Homo sapiens: one gene and its partner. The protein of the gene in region 1 binds, or shares a complex with, the protein of each later gene. Links are inferred from orthologs where the notes say so. Each region holds a gene or a part of one and is shown on either strand. Other genes may lie near its edges. The genes, in order: KCNJ8 and ABCC9.

Region 1 (11,342 bases):
ATTGACAATGCTCCTAGTCACTCAAGTGCTCTGATGGAGATGTAGAAGGAGTTGATTGCTGTTTTTATGCTTATTAACACAACATCCATTCTACAGCCATGAGTCAGGGAGTAATTTCGACTTTTAAGGCCTATTACTTAAGAAATTTACATTTCATAAGGCTATTGCTGACATAGATAGTGAGTCCTGTGATGGAGCTGGGCAAAGTAAATTTAAAACCATCTGGAAAGGATTCACCATTCTAGATGCCATTAAGAACATTTGTGATTCACGGGAGGAGGTCAGAATATTAACATTAACAGGAGTTGGGAAGAAGTTCATTCTAATTCTCATGAATGAGTTTGAGGGGTTCAATACTTCAGTGGAGGGAGTCACTGCACATGTGGTAGAAATAGCAAGAGAATTAGAATTACAAGGGCATTCTGAAGATGTGACTGAATTGCTGCAATCTCATGATAAAACTTGGATGAATGAGGAGTTGCTTCTTCTGGACAAGCAACCAAAGTGGTTTCTTGAGATGGAATCTACTCTTGGTGAAGATGCTGTGAACACTGTTGAAATGACAACAAAGAATTCAGAAGATTACATAAATTTAGTTGATAAAGCAGTGGCAGGTTTTGAGAAGATTAGCTCCAGTTTTGAAAGAAGTTCTACTGTGGGTAAAATGCTATCAAACAGCATCACACATTACAGATAAATCTTTTGTGAAAAGAAAAGTCAATTGTTGCAGCAAACTCTTCATTGTCATATTTTAAGAAGTTGCCACAGCCACCCCAACCTTGAGCAACCACTACCCAGATCAATCAGCAGCCATCAATATCAAGGCTAGCCCCTCCACCAGCAAAAAGACCACATCTTGCAGAAGGCTCAGATGAACATTAGCATTTTTTAGCATTAAAATATTTTTTGAATTGAGATATGTATATTTTTCAGCCATAATGGTATTACACACTTACTAGATTACAATATAATATAAATGTTTTATATGCACTGGGAAACAAAAGGTTTGTGTAACTGTCTTTATTTTGATATTTGCTTTATTGCAATGGTCTGGAACCAAAACTGCAATATCTCTAAGGTATACCTGTAATTAATATTATACTAACTTGAATTTTCTCACTTTGGCCTAATCCTGTGAAAGAAGCAGAGGGAAGGAACCAAGAAGTTGTAGGATTTTCTTGGGAAGCTTTTTCAAATTGCACATCTACTCCCTATCTTAGTGAATAGACATTGATTTGGTAGGCTGAGGTTGGATCTGGGTAAGATGCTTTTGAAAAGTTCTCAGGGGATTCTGATTTACTCCCATATGGGAAGCACCACATTTGTTACTATCAATTTATAACACTTAATTTCACAACAAGTACTGCTGTGGCTTCTTCATAGAAACAATATTAGTTCTATCTTTGCCCCCAACCACAATTTCAAACTTCTCTAACTTTATAGAAGACAAGCCTACACATTAGCAATCTCTCAAAGTATTACCTATTTATTAATGCTACAGACAGCAGGTGAGAAAAATGTTTAAACATTTGAGTACTTGGTATGTACAGTGCACTTTGGTAGAAAATTATGAGGGATAAGCAAGAATACATGGATTATTCTTTTGATTAGCTTTTAAGTGAAGTGCGAAAGTTGCCTTTCTCTTTTGTTGCTAAAATGATTCATGGAAAACTACAGTAATTGCCTATTGCACTAACTACCCACAAAAAGATATCTGGTATAGCCCCAAAACATGGCAAGAATAAAAATGGACCCCAGAGAAGGGGTATGGATACAACACTGATTTCTGATAATGTATCCATACCTCAGAGAGCAGTCTAATGATAAATATCCCAAATAGTTTGTTTTAATGGTTTAAGAGACTATTCATGAGCCACATTTTGTATATTGTTTATGAATTCTAAATATTACATATGGTACAAGACCCAGCTTTTTACTGACACTTGCTATGCTAAACAATCTCAAGAGATAAAAGTGTTTAGCTGTTTCTTTGTTCTGTTACAGAAAGAGGTAGGCTGGATAATATCGAGAAAGAGGAAATATATTGGTCTATTTTTTGACTCATATTAAATGGAGTCAAAGAGACTCCTTGCAGGAGAAAATACATGGAGGAGAAAATGAGTCACCCTAAGAGAAGAATGGTCAAACATTATTTGGAAATACTGGTGAATATTCAATGAAAAATGTTGTTTCCAATTTTAGTGATATGGTTGGACATTGAATTCACAAAGGGAAAAATGCAAAGAATTAGAATTATTATTAGTCACCTTTTACATTCTCATTGGGAGAGAATGAAGATTTTTAAGGTTTGCTGTTACCATTTCTTTTTTCTCTTTTTATCAGTATCATATAATTTAGATTAAAACTTTATTTTGATATGAAAATGATTCACCAATTATCAGTGCCAGTAAGTTTCTTAAAGATATATATTATAGATAATGATATTTGATCTTAGAGTATCTATTGAACGTTTTAACGGATATTTTAAGTATTGTGTTTTCTTTATATCTGGTATACTGATGATCTATGTTTTCCAGCTGCATTTTCTTTGAGACAACAGTTTGTGAGAAGTTTGAAAAAAGAAAATAATATCTAATCAATATTAAAAGCAATAGATCAATTCAATACAGTTTTTGCTGCTCAGAATTTGAGCTGAAATCTGTGGTGTGTGATCTCTGCGCACTAATGCTGCCTTCCTCCTTGAAAGGCTGGCATTGTAGTTCCTTAGCAAATGGAAGGGTGGACAAGTTCACAGTCTGGGGTCCACTTTCTGCAGTGATATGCTAGCTTAATAAGGTTTCAGGGTCACTAGAGGTCCCATTCTTTACAGTTTCCTGGTATCATAATGCTTTTTCAAGTTTCTTTGCTTTGTGAATTATGTGAATTTAAAATGTTCTTTTAAAAATGTTTTGGAAAATTTTCCAGTATTATTACTACTCTTTTGCTTCACAGTGAACATCTTGGTAATTGATATAATTTATCTCTTTCCACCTCCCCCCGAAAAAAACAAAGAAATCACCTCAACTAAATGTTCTTAAACCATGTGAAAGCAAGAGAGGTGAATCACTGAAATCAATTTACCTGTCTTTGAGATACTTATGATATGAGAAAGAAGCCAAAGTTAGGTAATCTAAGAACTATCTTGTCCCTATTCTATTTAAACTTTGAAAGAAGAGTACAAAATTAAATTGCTTCTATATAACCCCTTCCATAAAATTTTGGACTAATTGTCATTAAAAATTAGCAATTTCTAGTTCTGAATCTTAGCATAACTTTTAATTTCTGAATCCAGTGCAAGCAATCAGCTATGTTATGATAATCTCGATAAAGAAGGGATGATATTTATTTCATTTTTTAGTAGATTTTTAATCTAGGACACTCTCCCCCTAGGGCCTTCCCATTTTTTTCTTATTATTTCTGAAAATGTCATGGGTTAGAAGAGTCAAGAAAAATGTCCACTAGCACAATATTTTTTGTTGATCAGAGATATTTACCTGTGGGCACTGAAACTATGGACAACAGCTTTTTCATACTGAACTCAATGTGTGCGCTTTTGGAGTAAAGCACTCTGTGTAATCCTTTGAATTACAATTTTTTTTTGATAACTGGTATAACATTTTCAAGGCTAGTCCAAAGGACTGAAGCTCAGGTTTTCAGAGACTCTTCTCCATAAAGCTGCATTTAAAAAATACTTACTGTGTTAGGTGTTGTTCTTTATTGTGCTTTTTTGTTTCTGAAGATTCTAAAACAAACCCTTTATTTCACTTTCAATTAAATAACAGAATGATAAGAGAAAGGGCATTTTGACATTTTTTCTCTACTGTTTTCAACCCCTGCCTCATCCCACTACATTCTTACCTGACATTAGTCACACACACAGTGGACTCCAAACCACTTTTCTCCATTCCACTTTTCTCCATGTAAGCATAGATGTCCCCATGGGCAAAGGCCACCAGCCACCACATGATAGCGAAGAGCAGCCAGCTGCAGAGGAAGGACATGGTAAAGATGACCAGCGTGTGGCGCCATTTCAGGTCCACCAAGGTGGTGAAGATGTCCTGTAGAAAGCGTCCTTGCTCACGGATGTTCTTATGCGCCAGGTTGCAGGCCCCGCTCTTGGCGATGAAGCGGGCTTTGGGGAGGCGGTCTCGGATGCGCGGCTTGCGCAGGTTCTCTGCGGCGATGCGCGCCAGCACATACTCCTCCGGGATGATACTCTTTCTGGCCAACATCGTCCTGTCACCATAGCCAGCTTAGCCACCTCCCTCTCACCTGCCTCTCCGTCCCTGGACACCCGTCCTCCTGCACGAGGGAAACATTTATTAAAAACTTAAAAACCCACCCTATCCTCACCTCTTGGGTCCTTGTATTCAAGGATATGTCTGTACATGTGCGAGGTGACATGCAAAACCAAAAATGTGATTTTTACTAACCCAAACATGAATCTAGCTTGTGCTTGAGTTCTGGGATCTCAGAAAAATTACTTGGTTTTAATAAAAAGAACTGTTTCAATTTTTCTTATTCTGAGTACATATGGACATAGCCTTAGTTAAACAAAACCAGGAGCCTTCCGGTAAACAGCAGGCTCAAAGATAATTCTCTGCGATTAACCGCGTCTGTAAATTAGTGCAAGGCTACAGCACGTGGCGTCAGTCATGAAGATTAAGACCAGTTGGGTGCACGATCTACTTATTAAAGTACTTAGATGATGTAGCAATATTAAAAGTAAAGAGAGAAAATTCTTCCTCCGTTATTTTTAGAAGTAAGCAAAGGCCATGACTCCTTGCGCAGTCTAAATAACGTGTAATCTGACAAAATTATAATAAGTGGTGTGCTATAGAATTTATAAGTTATAAGAATTATTTTAAATGCGAAAGAAGTATGAGTTGCATCTAAAAAGAGTTAAAAAGGTTCCTGTGGAAATCATAATATTATAAATTGAAAACTTTTTTTTTTTTTTTTTTTTACAACGAAGGAATCAAATATACAAGGTGCGGGGGGGAAAAAACCCAAGACAACAGCCTGCGGGTTGCAGTAGGGAGTGTGCCCCGAAAAGTCCATCCATCACTGCAAGCCTCTGCGGTGTTTTGCATTTTAAATCATTTACGGGAACACGGACAGCCTCCCCCCTCCGCTCCCCCGGAGCAGCTTTGAAACTTACAGACTCCGGGTAGCGGGCGCGGCGGCTGGACCTCCTTGCACACGCCGGCGGGCCGCGGGCAGGTCCCTCGCTCTCCCATGCTGGCGCGCGGGACCAGGGGCCGCCCAGGCCGGAGGGACAAATTGGGGGCTGCGTGTCCTAAGGAGAAGAGTTAAAATAATAAAAGGTGCAACTGAATCTAAACGCAGGGAGGGCTAGAGGAAGGGGGATGGGTGTAGATCTTCCCCTCCCCCTGCTCAGCTCAACTCCCTTGGCCACTTCAGTGGAAGGAGGAGGGACTGGGGGGGCGGGGGCGGGGGGGCGATGCTCCACAAATCAGCCTCCCAGTTAGGGCTTTGACGCACGCCAGACCTCGGAAGCCGACGTTGTCGCGGAGTAGGGGGCGGGCGGGGAGGGGGCGAGCGCAAGTCCCCGGGAGGTAGGGAGCAGGCCAGAGGGAGGGACGACCCGGGGGAGGGCGGGACCTGCAGAGCCAGCTCCTTTCCAGTAGCCGCGACCCCCTGCCGCCAGCGTGACACACAAGTCTTTAAAAGGCTCTCTGCTCAGGGGAGAGAACTTTCTGACTCCAAGTTCACTGACGTAAGGAGATTTAATTTTAATTTTATTTTGTAATCTAGGTAGATAACTGGGCTACTTCATGATAACTGGGCTACTTCGGACTGAATAAAAGCAGAGAGGTCAGAAAATATTCTTCCAAAGCGTTCAAGCTGTGGGCACACACAATTATTTACATTAAATTTCCACCTGCTAGGAGAGATACAGGTGGAAGATGTTCTGAAACCCACTATAGTAAAGTATTTCTTCACCAGCCAAAGCCAGTTCTCAGGGAATTAAACACACACACACCTCAAAACAGCGACTGCCCCCCACCACCCCCGGCCCCTTAAGGAAAAGAAAGAAAAAAAGAAACCACTGACTGGCTCCCAATGAAGAAATTTTACCCCAAACAGGGACGGCCGTTAACACTTCAGCGCTGATAAGGCCAGGTCATTCGGTCCTCAGTAATTGGTTGCTTTCTGAAATGTTGCAGCTTCTTCCTCTGTCTAGATGGGTCTGAATGATAAAACAGCATTTGCGCACAAAAAAGGTTATACAATAAACATCTATAGCTTTTTGAAAAGGAGCCAGCGAAGACAAATGTGCTTTTTCCCACAGGTCAAGCCTCCTGATTTTGGCACTTGCGTTAATGGAAACTTTAATTCTTGGAAGTTCCACGTATTTTCCAAGACTCGAGCCGAAAGTGTATGGAGCATAAACAATGTATTCATTTAATTAGCCAAAGACCTAAAATTAGTCTTTAATGAAGGCAAATTAAGAACTTTTTTTTTCTCCTTGTGGTTAGATCTCCTTAACCCCTGTAAGCCCAGGATCCTAGTTTGTTAGTGGTAGTCCTCCTTTCTACTGTCATTAATTTTTGCAGTAATTTATGTAGTATAATAGTTTTACAAGTCTATGAAGAATCAGTTTGTATAGTCAATTCCCGCCATTGTTCTATTTTACCTTTGACTTTGTACACATTATTATTCATTATTTTAGCCTGGGGAACATTTACTGAACACCTTTGTAAGCTTTTTTTAGGTTTATGTGTCTAGAGATATATAAATATATGTCATAGTTGTTGCTTTTAAGAGGCAGACAGTTGTAGTAAGAGAGATATTCTCTAATACAAGCAGGGATGTGATTAGAATAGGAAAGGAAATTTTAAAATGTCATGGGAATTCAAATGAGAGATATTTAAGAGTAGGAGACTAAGGAAAAATCCATGGATTATTTGGCATCTGATCTAGGCTTTGTAAGCCTAGATATATTTAGGGTATACAGAAAAGCAGAGAAAAGACAGCCCACGTCAGCATTGATGAAGCCAAGTTGGCTACACAGCAGGATTGGACACTTGAGTTCAGTGCTCCCTGGGCAGGCGCTGTTACCACCTACTCTCAATACTTAATGAGATTTTCATGTACTCGTCACACCCATTCCCACCACTCCTGTACCCCCTCCCTTAAACTGGGGACTGCTAGAGGGCAAGGCTGTGACTTGTTCATCTTTGTAGCAAGGCCCTAGCACCATTTAAATTATAAATGGGCTCAAAAAATATTTTTGAATCAATGAATGAAAAATACAAAGTTGAAAAAGCATATTGGGGCCTTAAAAAATGCATAGACAGCCTTAAATGCTCAACAAAAGAAGCTGAGGAGTCCTCAGTATGTAGTGGTAAGCCATGGAAAGATTTTGATCAGAAAACTACACAATAAGAGCCTGTTTTAAGAGGATTGATCCAGAAGCAGAGAATATAATGGCTTTAAGGGTTGCATTTCTTGAGTATAGTCCCTCTGGGCTCCAAAATTCTGTAACTGGCAGAAGAGGGTGCTGGAAACTGTTACATTAATTAGAGAAGGAATGAGGTCTTGGGCTAATAGGTAACATCAGTGGGCACTATACAAATACATACAAAAGGAATGTTATACAGAGTCAATATTGGAAAAGGGAAAAGTCAGAGGTGACTGTGATGTTTATCATAGTAACAGAAAAATAATAAGAAAATTGGAATGAGAAGAGCTGAAGTACTGTGGAGAATTTATGAGAAGATTTGCAACAAAAAAATCCATATCTGAATTCTCTGAAAATTCTGTTCTTTTGGTATAATACATATTTCAGACTCTTTTTTTTCATTGAGATGTATTCTTCCAAATACGCAATTTTAAATCGTTTCAACTTGCTTTCATAACAGAATGTCATATTTTTATTAGTCAGTAATTTAACTTGATTGATTCAAAATCAGGGCACATAATAAAGATCAAATTTGAAGAAATTAATAAGTAAATGTTTGACAATAGTAGGCCTAAGAACAAATAGTAATCATTTTAAATGGTAAAGAATGTGTGCTATAAGAATATTACAGATATATATTTTTCTTTGTATTCCCTTTCTACATTGTTTCCTTAAGCAGTGTATGTCTTTGTCCTTCAACTAGTTTTTCTGCACTAAGTGGAAGCTGCATGAGAGCACATTGTTTAATATCACCACACACCCAGGGTCTCAAATTGTTCCGAGATCCCAAGAGTAGGTACTCAATAAATACTTGTCAAATGAAAAGAAGTAGGAATAGTGTTCAAAACATGGTATTTCTCTCTCTTGCATTTTCTCTCTCATCTCTCTCTACCCTTCATGGTTTTGCAACTATTTCTCAGAACCCACATAGGAAATGTGAACTTTTGGAATTCACTTTGAAGTCTGTTTCTATAGCTGTCTACAAAAATTTTCTTATTCTCACTTTTCTCTTTACTATATTGCTCTACCTTTAAATCAAGCTTGTCCAACACGTGGCCCGCGAGCTGCATGCAACCCAGGAGAGCTTTGAATGCTGCCCAACACAAATTCGTAAACTTTCTTAAAATTATGAGATTTTTTTGTGATTTTTAGCTTATCAGCTATCGTTAGTGTTATTGTACATTATGTGTGACCCAAGACAATTCTTCTTCCAATATGGCCCAGGGAAGCCAAAAGATTGGACACTCCTGCAAAATTATCCATTTCTCCCTTCTTTAGCAACTTCCCTAACTTCCCTAATTGCTCTAAGTCAGCAATACTTAAACTTGTCTGGCATTTGCTAGCTAAGTTTCTCTTTACAACTTGATTTTAAGCTTAACTGACATATACCTCTATCCCCCAAAAGTCTTTCTGGACACATAGTAACTGCTCAATAAATATTTATTATTGACTGACCTCTAGCTCTCCCTCATATTATGGTCCAAACAGTGAACATTTAAATTTGCCTCTGGCTGAGAAATTGGCAAAAAAAAATCAATTAATTTTCAAGAGCACATTTACTACTTAGGGCTTATTTTATTCATCTGCTTATTCAATCACTATATGCTGTTGTCCACTAAAAGTTAGGTATATTTTCTTAACTGTTCAATAATTTTCTTAATTGTTCTTTCAGGAGTGAAGACTAATTTGCACACTACCAGAGGATATCAGTAATAAGTTTAGAACACAGCTAATTTTATTTACTATTATAATTTTCTTGAGTATGCAGGAATCCTGTTAGAATTTACTCATGTTGCAGAAATTTATGCAATTAAAAAGCAATTAAAAGATTTTGGTTCAGTTGTAAGTCAGCATCTGCCAGGTTCCTTTTAGACCCTATGAGCATTTTTCTTTGGGTTTCTGACATTCTCATTCTCTTAAGAAACAAAGCTTGTCAAGTGCCTTTAGACAAGTAGAGAAAATATTAGGTTGATGCTTTTCCTAATTGTCTGCTGCTTTGATTACCAAATGCAAATCAGTGAAGTTTCTGAAAGTACCCTTGAGAGCAAGGGTGAAATTCTTCCAGTTGTTGACTTTGCCTTTGACATGACTTGTAGACTTCAAACTCTTGGATTTCCTGAGCCATATTAGACTTAAAAATTTGGAGGGTCTTCAAAATGGCAATGGAAACGAGTCATGTTAGCTGAACAAATAATGGTTGGTCTATTTGCTTAGTATGCTGCTTTACTAGTGTCCTCGTATAAACCACTTTGGAACATATTGCTTTGGAATCAACTTAATAAAATTGTTACATAAACTAGTAATCAAAACAGCATGTTATAAACTTACTTTTTTGGAGTTATCATGGAATGGGAATGACAGTATAACTCTTCTCAGTTATTTGTTCCAGTGAATTCGGAGAACATTTCTTTTTGAGATATGTATCTATTTATGTGCAGAAAAGCATCACTCTGTTTTAAATAAGGTCACCCCATTTCTTCTTTGCAAGCTCAGCTCCTCATACTTTAGCAAGCTCACAGGTGTGAATCAGAAAGGTCAGGAAAGGAGGCACTCACAACAATAACTACCCTTTGATTTGCATCTAGGTGAGCAAAACAACATCCCTGCTCCAAGGCATTCTTGGGGAGAAAGCTGTTAGCAAACAAGTAATACATTACATAATTATTAATAGTGGTAAAATATATAAAGAAAATAAATTGAGATAAGGATCAAAAGTAACTAGGGCCAGAGATGACAGTTTTAGATAGGGTTCAAAAAAGACCTCTTTAAAACAGTGACATTTGAATAAAGAATCAACTGTATGATCAACTTGGGAAAGAGTGCTTCAGGCAGCCCAAGAGCAAGTGTAAAAGCTTTGAGGCAGGAAATAGTTTGATGTGCTTGAAGAACAATAAGAAAATCAGTATAGCAGATGGATAAGAGGAAAGGCAGAAGAAGAGCTGGGAAAACTGGGAAGTGCCTTCACTGTTCTCTCCATTTACCCAATGAATAAGGATTGGGAGTCTGCCAGGTAACTAGGTTATGAAAATCACTGACCCTAATCCTTGAGACAGTTGCATGAAAATTAGGTTATTTTTCTCATTTTGCACACGAATTGATTAGAATTTAGCAAAATGACTTTCCAAAGTCACTTACCAAGCAAGTAGAAAGCTATGACAGACTCAGAACATCTGATTCCAAATCCTGTGCTTTTCTTACTAGACAATATCTCAAGGAGATGATTGTCCAACTATGGTCCAGCTGCACGAGAAACACCTGGTAATATGATTTCATGCCCCACCAGACTTCTATTGAGCAAGGATAGAATAAGAAGTATGATCTTTGGCCCAGAAATTAAAATATCTTTAATGAAAAGGTATAAACACTTCTAATAAAATAAAGCACATTTAAAAGTTATCCTGGAGATTCTCTTGCCCAGCCAGGTATTAGAACCTCATAGAATTATTTTTAGGGCAAGATGAGATAATATAAGATGCTTAGGATAGTTCCTGGCCTGTGATAAGTACTTAATAAATATCAACTCATTAATATCTTAGGGCTGGTTTTAGTTTGGTGATGGTCAAGAAGGTCTCAGAGCAGGCTGTGGGGGTAGGAAGGAAAAGCTACAGCTCACAGATTTATTTTATCATTTTATAGACCTGAATATTTTTGAGATCTTACCAACCCTCAGAGTGCTATTATAACTAACCAATACTTGTACTACCGTCTCCTCAACTCTTGAACTTAATTAAGACACTGGGGACTAAAAAGGAGCCAACCAAGATACTGGTAATAAAATAAGGACTCAGAAATCAACACATGTGTTTTACTGTAATAGTGTTTCCAAGAGAAAAGTAGTTCCTTCCATCAAAGAAAGAGTACCCATGCTGATTATGTTCTACTGGTAGGCTACAAAATACTAATTATAAATAAA
Region 2 (10,606 bases), 160 kb from region 1:
CAGTGAAAGGAGTTATTATTATTAGGAGTTATTATTACCGCCTTTCTTGTAGACAATTCTTGTATGTTCAAGAAGTAGTTTTCTATCTGCTTAATTTTTGTTACTCTTTACTTTTTTTTAGGAGTTCTGCGTCCGGGTTTGAAATTTACATCTTAAGACAGTGTAGGAAGTCGGTGTTTTGAAGGTAGCTCAAGTGCACCGGCAGGGGTTTGAAGCAGCGTGAAGCTATTGCCCAAGGTATTTATTTTTTGCTTTATTTGTTCAGTTTGGGATTTTTTTTAAAATCCCATTGCAGTATCTAAGGAATACCTACTGAGTAATTTCAACATTTCTTTTGGTGTGGGATGGTACTTCACAGCCACTGAAGAGTAAATGGGTGGATTCAGATCAGGCACTAAGTCAGAAGTCAGTGGTCATTTTTGCCAGTGATTTTCCCACTTGGATCTGTCATAGTTATAGCCATGGTAGCTAGCTAACTAGCTATACATCTTCTAGTTTTTATTTCATGAACTAGGGACTGAATAACTTCAAAGAAGTGATTACAGCATTTGTTTTTGCAAGTGACATCCATCCTGAAAATGCTCTAGATGATGATAAAGCCCTAAGTTCTTTAAAATGTCCTGCTTCTCTTTCATAACAGAATTTGGTTAATCTCTAAACGATTAAAGAATGAATCCTTTTATATGTAAGAATGAAAACTTTTATTTAAATTTAGCATGTTTTCTCCAGGTGTTTCCAGCATTTTAAACTCTCTGCAATTGCTATTCGATCAGAACTAACGCTTTCTGCTAAGTGAACAGGAAGGAAGACAAGTTTTCACTTGCTTTACTTGTAGTCTATTTCCAAAGGACAGGGCTGGCCACAATAAATGGTGTACCTTATATGCCTCAGCACTTAAATGTGTTTTTAGAATTAAATCAGATAACTACTGCTCGTGTCTTGCAGAGGAACCAACAGACTGGATAGGTCAGGTATTATATTCACCAACTAAATCCAAAATGTATATGTTCTAGATGTGTGGAATTTCATGTAATGCATTTCGAGGAATAAAAACACTGAGGGTGCGATTCTTGCCATGAAATCGTAAGTTAGATAATTAGGAGTATTTCTATTTTATGTTTTCTGCTCCATAGACATACGTTAGAAGCAAAATTTCACTTTGATCTTTGTTTTTAAAGTTTATTCAGTCAAGTTCTCCAACTCTATCACCTCTCATAAACAACTGAGCATATTTCGATGGCTTATGCTTGTGGAAAGGGAAACATTATATCTCCCCATCTGCTCTCCCTTCTCTCTCTCTCCTTGATGCTTGGGCCTCCCTCAGTGCTTAGCTGAATCTAAACAGCTCCAGAAGGGGTGGAGCTGAAGGATGTCAGGTGACAGAGTTTAGCCAGCAAGAACAGCGATTTATACCCTTCCCCAAACATTCCCAATTGAACCTGGTGTCTGGGAGGGAAACATTAAATGACAATTGGAAATTTAAGGATTAGGAACGTGGATTGAATAAAATGCCTTTGATAAACACAATAATTATCAATATATCAGCAATAAGTTTACTGCCTCCCTCTTTTTGTCCATGTTGGGTTGTAATGGAGGCTGGCTGTTAGAGTGCCACATGGACTCTGGATGTTGGATAAGGAGACTACGGGTTAAAGGGAAAGGATAAATGAGGAGTCAAAAGAAAAGGTGAAAGGAGACATGCGGTAAGGTAATGCACAGGTTCAGAGCCGGCCGGAAATGTGAAGTTAGAGTTTATGGCAGACAGAAAAATCGTTCTAAAGCGTTTACTGTACCAACTTGAAGTTTACACTTTTGTTTGATTGCATCATTTCTTATTTTCCTATCTTTTAGATCATATACCCCTACAATATACCCACAGCTACTGAGACTACTGTAATCTGATTCATACAGTCTAAATAAAACCACAGAAACTGTTTCTGACGTGCACCATTGGATTCCTAGTAACTAGCACGTAGTTAGCATCAATAAGTGTTTTTACAGTTCATTAGTTAATGGCATAGAATTCCAGATATCTGGTGTATGTCTGAAAATGTTCTTAAATTTTTCAGGTGATTGTACTTCTCTGAGATTTTTTTTCCAGTTACACACAACATTTATCCAAAGGCGATTTAATTGGTAGATTTCAGGATTGATTAAACACCAGGCAAGCAATGCTTATAGCTAATGAAGGGTGTAATTTGCAAAGCAGCAGGTTATATTTTAGCATCTACCTCAATGATACTAGTTTATAAATGTGGCCAACTGGAATATTATAATTTTGGATAAGATTATAAAAGTTGCTAAAGTAAAAATCATTTTCTAGTTTGTGCGAGGAAAGTTTATATATGTCTTTCAATTAAGAGTGGGCTTTAAGTTTTCTTTTTATCATTTCTACTAAATAAAGGAAGTAGTCTAAAAAATTCATTACTAGCTATTAGTTTTTAGTTTTGTTTTTGTCTGTCTTTGCCAGAAATACATCTAACATACACCTATAAATTAATAACTTCCATTTTGCTGTTTTTTAAAAACTTCAAGTCCCTTTTATTCTTTTATCCAGATTAATACCTTAATAGCTTGTTAGAATTTACCCAGTGTATAACTTCACCTTGAGGTTTTAAAAATACAACTTTTTAAAAAAAGATGAGGGAAAGACTCAACTAGAGAGCATATCAACTATTTATTATAAAAAGAGCTTATCAGGAACAATATGTGAGAGGCATTCTGTATAAGTATCTAAGATTGTAAATACACAGACTCTTTAGCTGAGGCATTCATATAATGCTTTATAAAACCTTTGCTTGAAATTTGATTTCTCTAATAATTTACCTACCATTGACAATCTTTTCTGTATAACACTGTTTTTTCCTAGGAAAAGTATTGTTTGTGACCATTGCTAAATCAATTATCAATGAAAGGAAAGAAAGAAAAGGTACTATGCTAGTTAATAAAATTTTTGCCAGCCTTTTGTAATGCAACTCAGAATCCATTGTGACATAAATATAGAAACTAGGTCTAGTGAGGTTAAAATCTTAAACTGCTACTTGTTTTAAAGAATAGATACGATAGCTTCTTTAAAAAGCAGGTTGGAGGTTGTGTAATACGGTGGAAAGAAATAGTTTATAAGTCAGATATTTGGGTGTGGACATGACCGCTTTACTGGTTGGCAAGTTACTGAACTTATCTGGACCTCAGTATCCTCCATTGTAAAAGATGAATTACAAGGTTGTTCTGAGGATTTAAGATATGCAAAGTGCCCAGAACTTAAATAAGTAGTAGGCATTATAAAATAAGTTTTCAGAATGTCAAAGCTTTTCCTGGAATTTCACAGCAGTATTTTCATGGAGCAGACCTTTGCTCATCTCCCATCTGTTTGGGCACAGCATTAATAGAGAACCATTTAACATGTAAGTGAGAGCACGTCACTCCTCTGCCCCGGAATCCCCAGTGGCCCACTTCACTAAGAGTAGAAGCCGCAATCCTGACAATGACTTACAAAGCACAGTGTGACCTTGTCCTCTGTTTCCTCTCTAAACTCATCTACTTCTACTCATGGAGTACCAATTTCCAGTTAAAAGACATCCTGCGTTTCAAACTTGCGTAGAGTGTATTTCTTGTGAGAATATTCTAACTATGGAATCTGAGTAGTTTCGTTGACTTGTCATTTGAGTTAGGTTTAATTCATCTTGAGCATTTGATTTTTAATATTCTTCAGGGAAAGACTGATTACTGTTAGCCATTACTGCAGGCACACTTGTTTCTGTATATTAGTATTTCCCACAACTAGTGAAATGTTTCAGCAAACTCTGTCACAGTTTACTGAACAACTTTTGTTGTTTATTAGTACATTTTCAGTGAGTATGGGAAAATATTTGAAATTATACCATTTTGACTTTTTAGTCATTGGTTCAATTTTTTTTCTCCTTTTTCTTAATATATGACCATTTTTGTTCTTTGAAAGCATTTTAGTCAGACACTCATTTGAGGTACTACTATAGGTAGATATTAATTATAATACATTTTCCACATGAAAGCATTTTTCTCTGGAAGTAAAAGCTATGGAAAAGAAGATCTCATAGGACGTATTTTATAAGAAAGCTTCAAGTTGCTTTGGCACAGAGTTTCTTATTTCCTCAGCTATCAAAGTAAAAGGGATTAATTTTATGATATAGCCCTCTATTCAAGGCTTTAATAATTTTATGAACAAGAGTTTACTAATAAGAGGATTTTTCTTTCTCATTTCTCTCCCTTTTAGAGTAAACCATATAAGAAGAAATGAGCCTTTCATTTTGTGGTAACAACATTTCTTCATATAATATCAACGATGGTGTACTACAAAATTCCTGCTTTGTGGATGCCCTCAACCTGGTCCCTCATGTCTTTCTGTTGTTTATCACTTTTCCAATATTGTTTATTGGTAAGTAATCTAGTATCTTATGTTATACCATTTGATGTTTATATATCTCGCTAATGGCTGAGATTTGGGATAATGTTGACTTAATTTCTGTAACATGGAAGCTGATGGCTGTGAGAAACGAACAAGCAAGTATTTTGTGTTTTTCAAACATATATTTTTGACAGGTGATCTTCCGTAGGTGAAATTGAGGTCACATGCTTGCTTAGGCATGGCCTTCAGGTAGCAGCAGCAGTTTTTTAAAAAGAAGGAAAGAGAAATATATGAGATAGATCTACAGCATTAGTTGAGCACTTACTTTGGGTTAGGTAAAGGGAATGGAAAATGAATAAAAGAGTACTTGCCTTCAGGGAATAGTCCAGTGGGGCAGATGTGTTAAAGTCATGAGAAATGACTATGCCACATTGTAAGCCTATTTACAAGCACAGGAACAAATTAACCTGCTGAAACAACTCACTCTTTGGAGGTGGTGGGGAAGATAGTGAGTGACATGTCTGGGGAACTGGAAGATGCCAAGCATGCAAGTTACAGTGGGAGTGATGAGGTTGTGTTTTATGTAGAAAGAGGACATTCACAAAGAATTTGGGAAGAAGTTAACAATACAGTTTTGTCTATTATTTTACAGTTTACATATGTATAAAATCTGATAATTAGGGGCAATTATGAATAATTTGTATAACTTACCCAAACAGACCCTTTAACTTTTTTAAAATTATGAAGTATTTTGATACCTAAAATGATGGACATTAATATAATAAATATCCATTGAGCCTACCAACGCTCATCTAAAGAATATAGAAATAAGAATGAAAGGACCTCTCTCTGCACACCATTTCCTGGTCTTGTGACTCTTTCCATATCCTACGTTCCTATCTTTTCACAGGAGACAACCACTATTTTGAGTTGATTGTGTTCAATTTTTTCATGTATGGTATCTTTCCAATTAAATAAGTGAAAAAGTTTTCAGATGCATTTTCTTAAGAAAACTAGCAAAATTTAATGATCTACTTTAAGGGAATGTTTGAAAATCATTCATACACTTTTATTTATTCATTTAACAAATATCAATTGAGAGGATACTATGTGCTTGGCATTATTCTAAGGGGGATTAAAGAACTCATCATATGGTATATACACAGGCCAACATAATTCTTGGTACATAGTTATGTTGAACAAATGTACAGATGCTAAATATATTGAGACCAGAATGGCCATATGTAGAAACATCAGTCTTTGTTTATGTAGTATTATTTGTAGGCCATGAAGAACGCCCTTTGGCCAAAAGTAGAAAAATGGATTTTTTAACTGTAATTCCACAATTAATAATTCCCCAGTTATTGACATCTGGTTAACTTTTTGAGAGCAAGAACAGGGACATTCCATTTTGTATCCCTAGCATCCAGCAAAGAGGCTGGCACCAGGGTATTTGAATAGAAGAGAATTTGAGGGGACATTGTTAAAGGGAAATAGAAAAAATTCAGACTTTTCATTTATGACATTGGCTGCTTGAATTAGTGAAGGATCATAAATCAATCTTAAAAACTATCAGGTACTAGGAAAATCATAAGGTTGCAAAAAAAGACATAGAACTTGCCTATGGGAGTTTACAGCATAAGTTCTAGTAGAATATATTAAATATAACTAATCTTCCAATGATGAATAAATTGAAAACAACTAAGACATGAATATTCATTTCAAATAAAAGGGGCATCTGCTGCCTATACAGAAATTCTTTCCTGCAGTATTTCAAGCCCAAACCCCCATTTGTTCTTGAAGTAGGTGGGGCTTTTTTTCTACAGTCAAAAAATGAGAAAAAAGAACAAAACAAGACAAAAGTGGGGCCTACTAGCACACCACATATGACCTAGTATTACTCTACATGACCTAGTATTACTCTACATGACCTAGTATTACTCTACGTAGTAACTAAACTGTATAGTACTTTAGGGAGAAAACGATCAGAATTTTACTAACATACAACCTTGAATTTTTTTCTTCAGTGGCAAGCTAACGGTGGACCTATAATGGTTTTGAGCTTGCTTAAAAGCTCATCATCAAGAAATTTAGCTTTCTTTGAGAAAAGTATCAGTACTACTTGTTGAATAATAGTGCCTGCCTAGTCATACATAACAATTTTTCTCATATGATGTGCATATGATTAAGAGTTGACTCAGCTAATGAGTCCTGTATTTTGTAACCAAATATGTCTTTTCTTGATTTAGCCCCTTGTAGATTTCATGTCTTCAAAGATTTTCTACACCAAATTTCATGTATTATTATCATCAACTTATTTCCTTTTGAATTAATCAGAAAGCTGTCAGGAAGAGCTTCTGATTAGCATGAGGTAGAACCATGTTGTCATCCAGAGTTGGTATTATTCCTGAGTAATGCCACAAATGTTAATGTGTTAGCCTGAGTAGTCTTGTAAAAGTTAATTGTAATTCTTTTGAATAATGAAAATAGACTAGGATTTCCATTGCTACTCTAGAAAGTTTTAAGGTTTCAGGACCCCCCCACCCCTGCCTTAAAGCTTATCATAATTTAAATTATGTTTATTACAATTGAGCCTTCGGTTTATGTCTTTTTGTTTTTAACTTTTCTCTCTTTTCCAGGGTGGGGGAGCCAAAGCTCAAAAGTACAAATTCACCACAACACATGGCTTCATTTTCCGGGACATAACCTGAGATGGATTCTTACATTCGCTCTCCTGTTTGTGCATGTCTGTGAAATAGCAGAAGGCATTGTTTCAGACTCGTAAGTGATCTAAGTTAAATAATACCACTGCAGTATACCAGTGGGTATATTGATTACACAAGTTCACATCTTTGTAACTTGTGCCCATAAATGTGCTTTATATTTTTTGCTCTCTGATCCATGTAGCTCTTGCAGGAAGTTCTTATGTCTTTTTGAACTTTTTAATGTTAAAAATAGGTATAAATGGAAAGATTGTCTACATTTACACATAGGTCTAATAGCTATATACTTATGTTAATATATTAATTATTTCTCAGATTTTTCCATTTATTTTGTAAAGAAGCAAAGATAGATGAGTCAGGATGAATGAGTCTGAGAATCAGTGAGGATAGAGCCATAAATTGATGCAAACCACAAAACTTTTAAAATCAAGATTTGTAATAAAACCAATTTTTTAAACTTTTATTTTAAGTTCAGGGGTACAAGTGCGTGTTTATTATGCAGGTAAACTTGAGTCACGGAGGTTTGTTGTACAGATTATTTCATCACCCTGGTATTAATCCTAGTACCCATTAGTTGTTTTTCCTGATCCTCTCCCTCCTCCTACCCTCCACCCTCTGAAAAGCAAAAGCCCCAGTGTGTGTTGTTTCCCTCTGTGTGTCCATGTGTTCTCATCATTTACCAAGTGAGAACATGTGGTATTTGGTTTTCTATTCCTGTTAGTTTGCTAAGAATAATGGCCTCCAGCTCCATCCATGTCCCTGCAAAGGAAATTATCTTGTTTTTTTCTGGCTGCATAGTATTCCATAGTGTATATGTACCACATTTTCTTTATCCAGTCTATCATTGATGGACATTTAGGTTGATTCCATGTCTTTGCTATTGTGAATAGTGCTGCAATGAACATATGCATGCATGCTTGTGTCTTTATAATAGAATGATTTATATTCCCATTACCCAATAATGGGATTGCTGTGTCAAATGGTATTTCTGTTTTTTGGTCTTTGAGGAATCACCACGCTGTCTTCTACAATGGCTAAACTAATTTACACTCCAACAAATGGTGCATAAGTATTCTATTTTCTCCACAGCCTCACCAGCATCTGTTATTTTTGACTTCTTAATTGTAGCCGTTTGACTGGTATGAGATGGTATTTCATTGTGGTTTATATTTGCATTTCTCTAATGATCAAGGATGTTGAGCTTTTTTCCATACATGTGTCTGTTCATGTCCTTTGCCCACTTTTTTATGAGGTTGTTTGTTTTTTTCTTGTAAATTTGTGTAAGTTCCTTATAGATGCTGGATATTACATCTTTGTTGGATGCATAGTTTGCAAAAATTTTCTTCCATTTTGTAGGTTGTCTTTTTACTCTGTTGATAGTTTCTTTTGCTGTGCAGGAGCTCTTTAGTTTAATTAGATGCAATTTGTCAATTTTTGCTTTTGTTGCAATTGTTTTTGGCATCTTTGTCATGGAATCTTTGCTCATACCTATGTCCTGAATGGTATTGCTTAGGTTGTCTTCCAGGGTTTTATAGTTTTAAAAACCCATATTTTTAAAGGAATTTTGTTATTTTTATAAAATAAGATGTTTCATTAGACAGTTAAAATATAATGAATTATATTTATAAACTTGAACATAATCTGGTGAAAATATTTTTCTCATATAGTAACAAAATAAACTCAAGAATAGGTAAATTTTGATTATGAAATTATGCTAAATGGTGTAACTTTCATTGAGGAGCTAATATTAGAAGACCTTTAAATTTTTTGATAGGAAAGTCTAAAATTTATTTTCTTCTTATTGAACTGGAACCTCCCTGACATCTGTTTGTGTTTTCTGTTGCAATTAACAAGGAATGAAACTTCTAAGCATTTGTCATGGAACCAACTATTTTGTAATGTTTTATGAGGGCTTTTCGCAGGTATGTGCATGTCTTAATTTCTGATAAAAAGAAAAATTAGAGACTCTAATAGATGCCATCCCTCCAGACATTTAGAAGCTTAATTGGATATTATCTTGTTGGTAACTGTTTAAAATGCTGGTATATTTATTTATACTAGCATAGCCAATTCTAGGCTTAATTTTTATACAGTAGCATTTAGGCTACTGTATCTGTTTATATGCGTATGTATAAAGTAGAAGATAGATCATCCAATATTTTTTTGAAACTTGACATCATGTGGACAAGAAGACTCCTCTGGTTGATATGTAGATTCAGTCAGGTCCTCACAAAACACAGATTGAACTCACAATAATAATGATATATCCTAATGGTAGAAACTTGTTTGTAGTGGTCATGATAAAAGAGGTCCTAAAAACAGGTAAAAATACAGCCTTGATTCTGTGTTATGCTCTTCTACTCTTTAGGTATAGACTTCTCCTTACCCTTTTTATTCAGGCTTTTCGAAACATCATCTTCTAGTTACTTCTTTTTTTTTTTTAATAAAGTAAAAAGGTTTAATTGACTCATAATTCCACATGGCTGGGGAGACCTTAGGAAACTTACAATCATGGCAGAAAGGGAAGCAAACAATTCCTTCTTCATATGGTGGCAGGAGAGAGAAGTGCAGAGCAAAGGGGAAAAAGACCCTTAAAAAACCATCAGATCTCGTGAGAACTCACTGATAATGTTGAGAACAGCATGAGGGAATTGTTGCCATTATCTAATCACCTCCCATGAGGTCCCTCCCCCAACACATGGGGATTACAATTCGGATTACAATTCAAGGTGAGATTTAGGGTGGGAACACAGCCAAACCATATCATAGCTCAATTTAATTTTTAAATTTAAATGTGCTTCTATATTTTTAGCAAATAAAGCTTACATTTTCTGAACTCAGGTACTTTAAAAAATATGAACTAATTTTTCTAGAGCAGTTTTAGGTTTACAGCAAAATTGAGTAGAAAATAGAGAGATTCCCTATATACATCTTTCCCCCACATATGCCCAATCTTCCCTGCTATCAAAACCCCACAGTATATATCCCATATAATTTCATAGTAATCTGCATTTAAGGTGCCTTTAAGTTTTTTCATGGCCAAATAGATCATTTCATTTTAGTGCTGAATGATATTCTATTGTCTGTATATACCACCATTTATTTATCCATTTGCCCACTGAAGGGCATCTGGATTGCTTCTAAGTTTTGGCCATTATCAAAAAAAATGCTATAAACATTTCTGTGCACGTTTGCACATATTGTGTAGACATAAATTTTCAACTCATTTGTGCTGGAGAGTCCTATTCCACCTTTCTGCTCCACTGGCCTGTAATTCTGTGACATTATCTACGCTGAGAGGATCTTGTCTTAGTTTTACAGATGAGACCTAAGATTATCTGTGTATAACATGACCTCCCCAGGTATGCCAATCATTTAACTTCTTTCCTTCCTCCTTTCAGAGGTCTGCTTTTTTGAAAACCTCATTTGTAAAAAAAAATTTGAATTTTTATAGTGCTATATAGATCTGTTTATTGACTACTTGGGCAGTGTTACACTT

The links.
Region 2: the proteins of KCNJ8 (region 1) and ABCC9 are in contact, whole or in part, in a cryo-EM structure (PDB 7MIT), measured with the Rattus norvegicus proteins. The link is inferred for Homo sapiens from one-to-one orthologs. Residues at the interface, in NP_058795.3 of Rattus norvegicus: Met1, Leu2, Lys5, Ile7, Ile8, Pro9, Glu11, Tyr12, Val13, Leu14, Ala15, Arg16, Ile17, Ala19, Glu20, Asn21, Leu22, Leu45, Ala46, His47, Lys48, Asn49, Gly54, Arg55, Phe56, Leu57, Asp59, Ile60, Thr62, Thr63; in XP_038963045.1 of Rattus norvegicus: Phe5, Ile10, Tyr13, Asn14, Ile15, Val19, Asn22, Cys24, Phe25, Ala28, Leu29, Val32, Val35, Phe36, Phe39, Phe42, Pro43, Ile44, Phe46, Ile47, Gly48, Trp49, Gly50, Ser51, Lys55, Gln57, Ile58, Asn129, Phe130, Lys132.

Annotation. Positions count from the first base shown.
Region 1 is NC_000012.12:21,769,385-21,780,726, forward strand, and holds the start of KCNJ8 (ATP-sensitive inward rectifier potassium channel 8), read right to left. Parts: upstream 5,323-11,342; 5' UTR 5,162-5,322; intron 4,303-5,161; 5' UTR 4,233-4,302; coding exon 3,859-4,232; intron 1-3,858. UniProt on the Homo sapiens protein: Inward rectifier potassium channels are characterized by a greater tendency to allow potassium to flow into the cell rather than out of it.
Region 2 is NC_000012.12:21,930,341-21,940,946, reverse strand, and holds part of ABCC9 (ATP-binding cassette sub-family C member 9), read left to right. Parts: intron 1-121; 5' UTR 122-237; intron 238-2,869; exon of another isoform or gene 2,870-2,929; intron 2,930-4,252; 5' UTR 4,253-4,272; coding exon 4,273-4,414; intron 4,415-7,023; coding exon 7,024-7,165; intron 7,166-10,606. UniProt on the Homo sapiens protein: Subunit of ATP-sensitive potassium channels (KATP). Can form cardiac and smooth muscle-type KATP channels with KCNJ11. KCNJ11 forms the channel pore while ABCC9 is required for activation and regulation.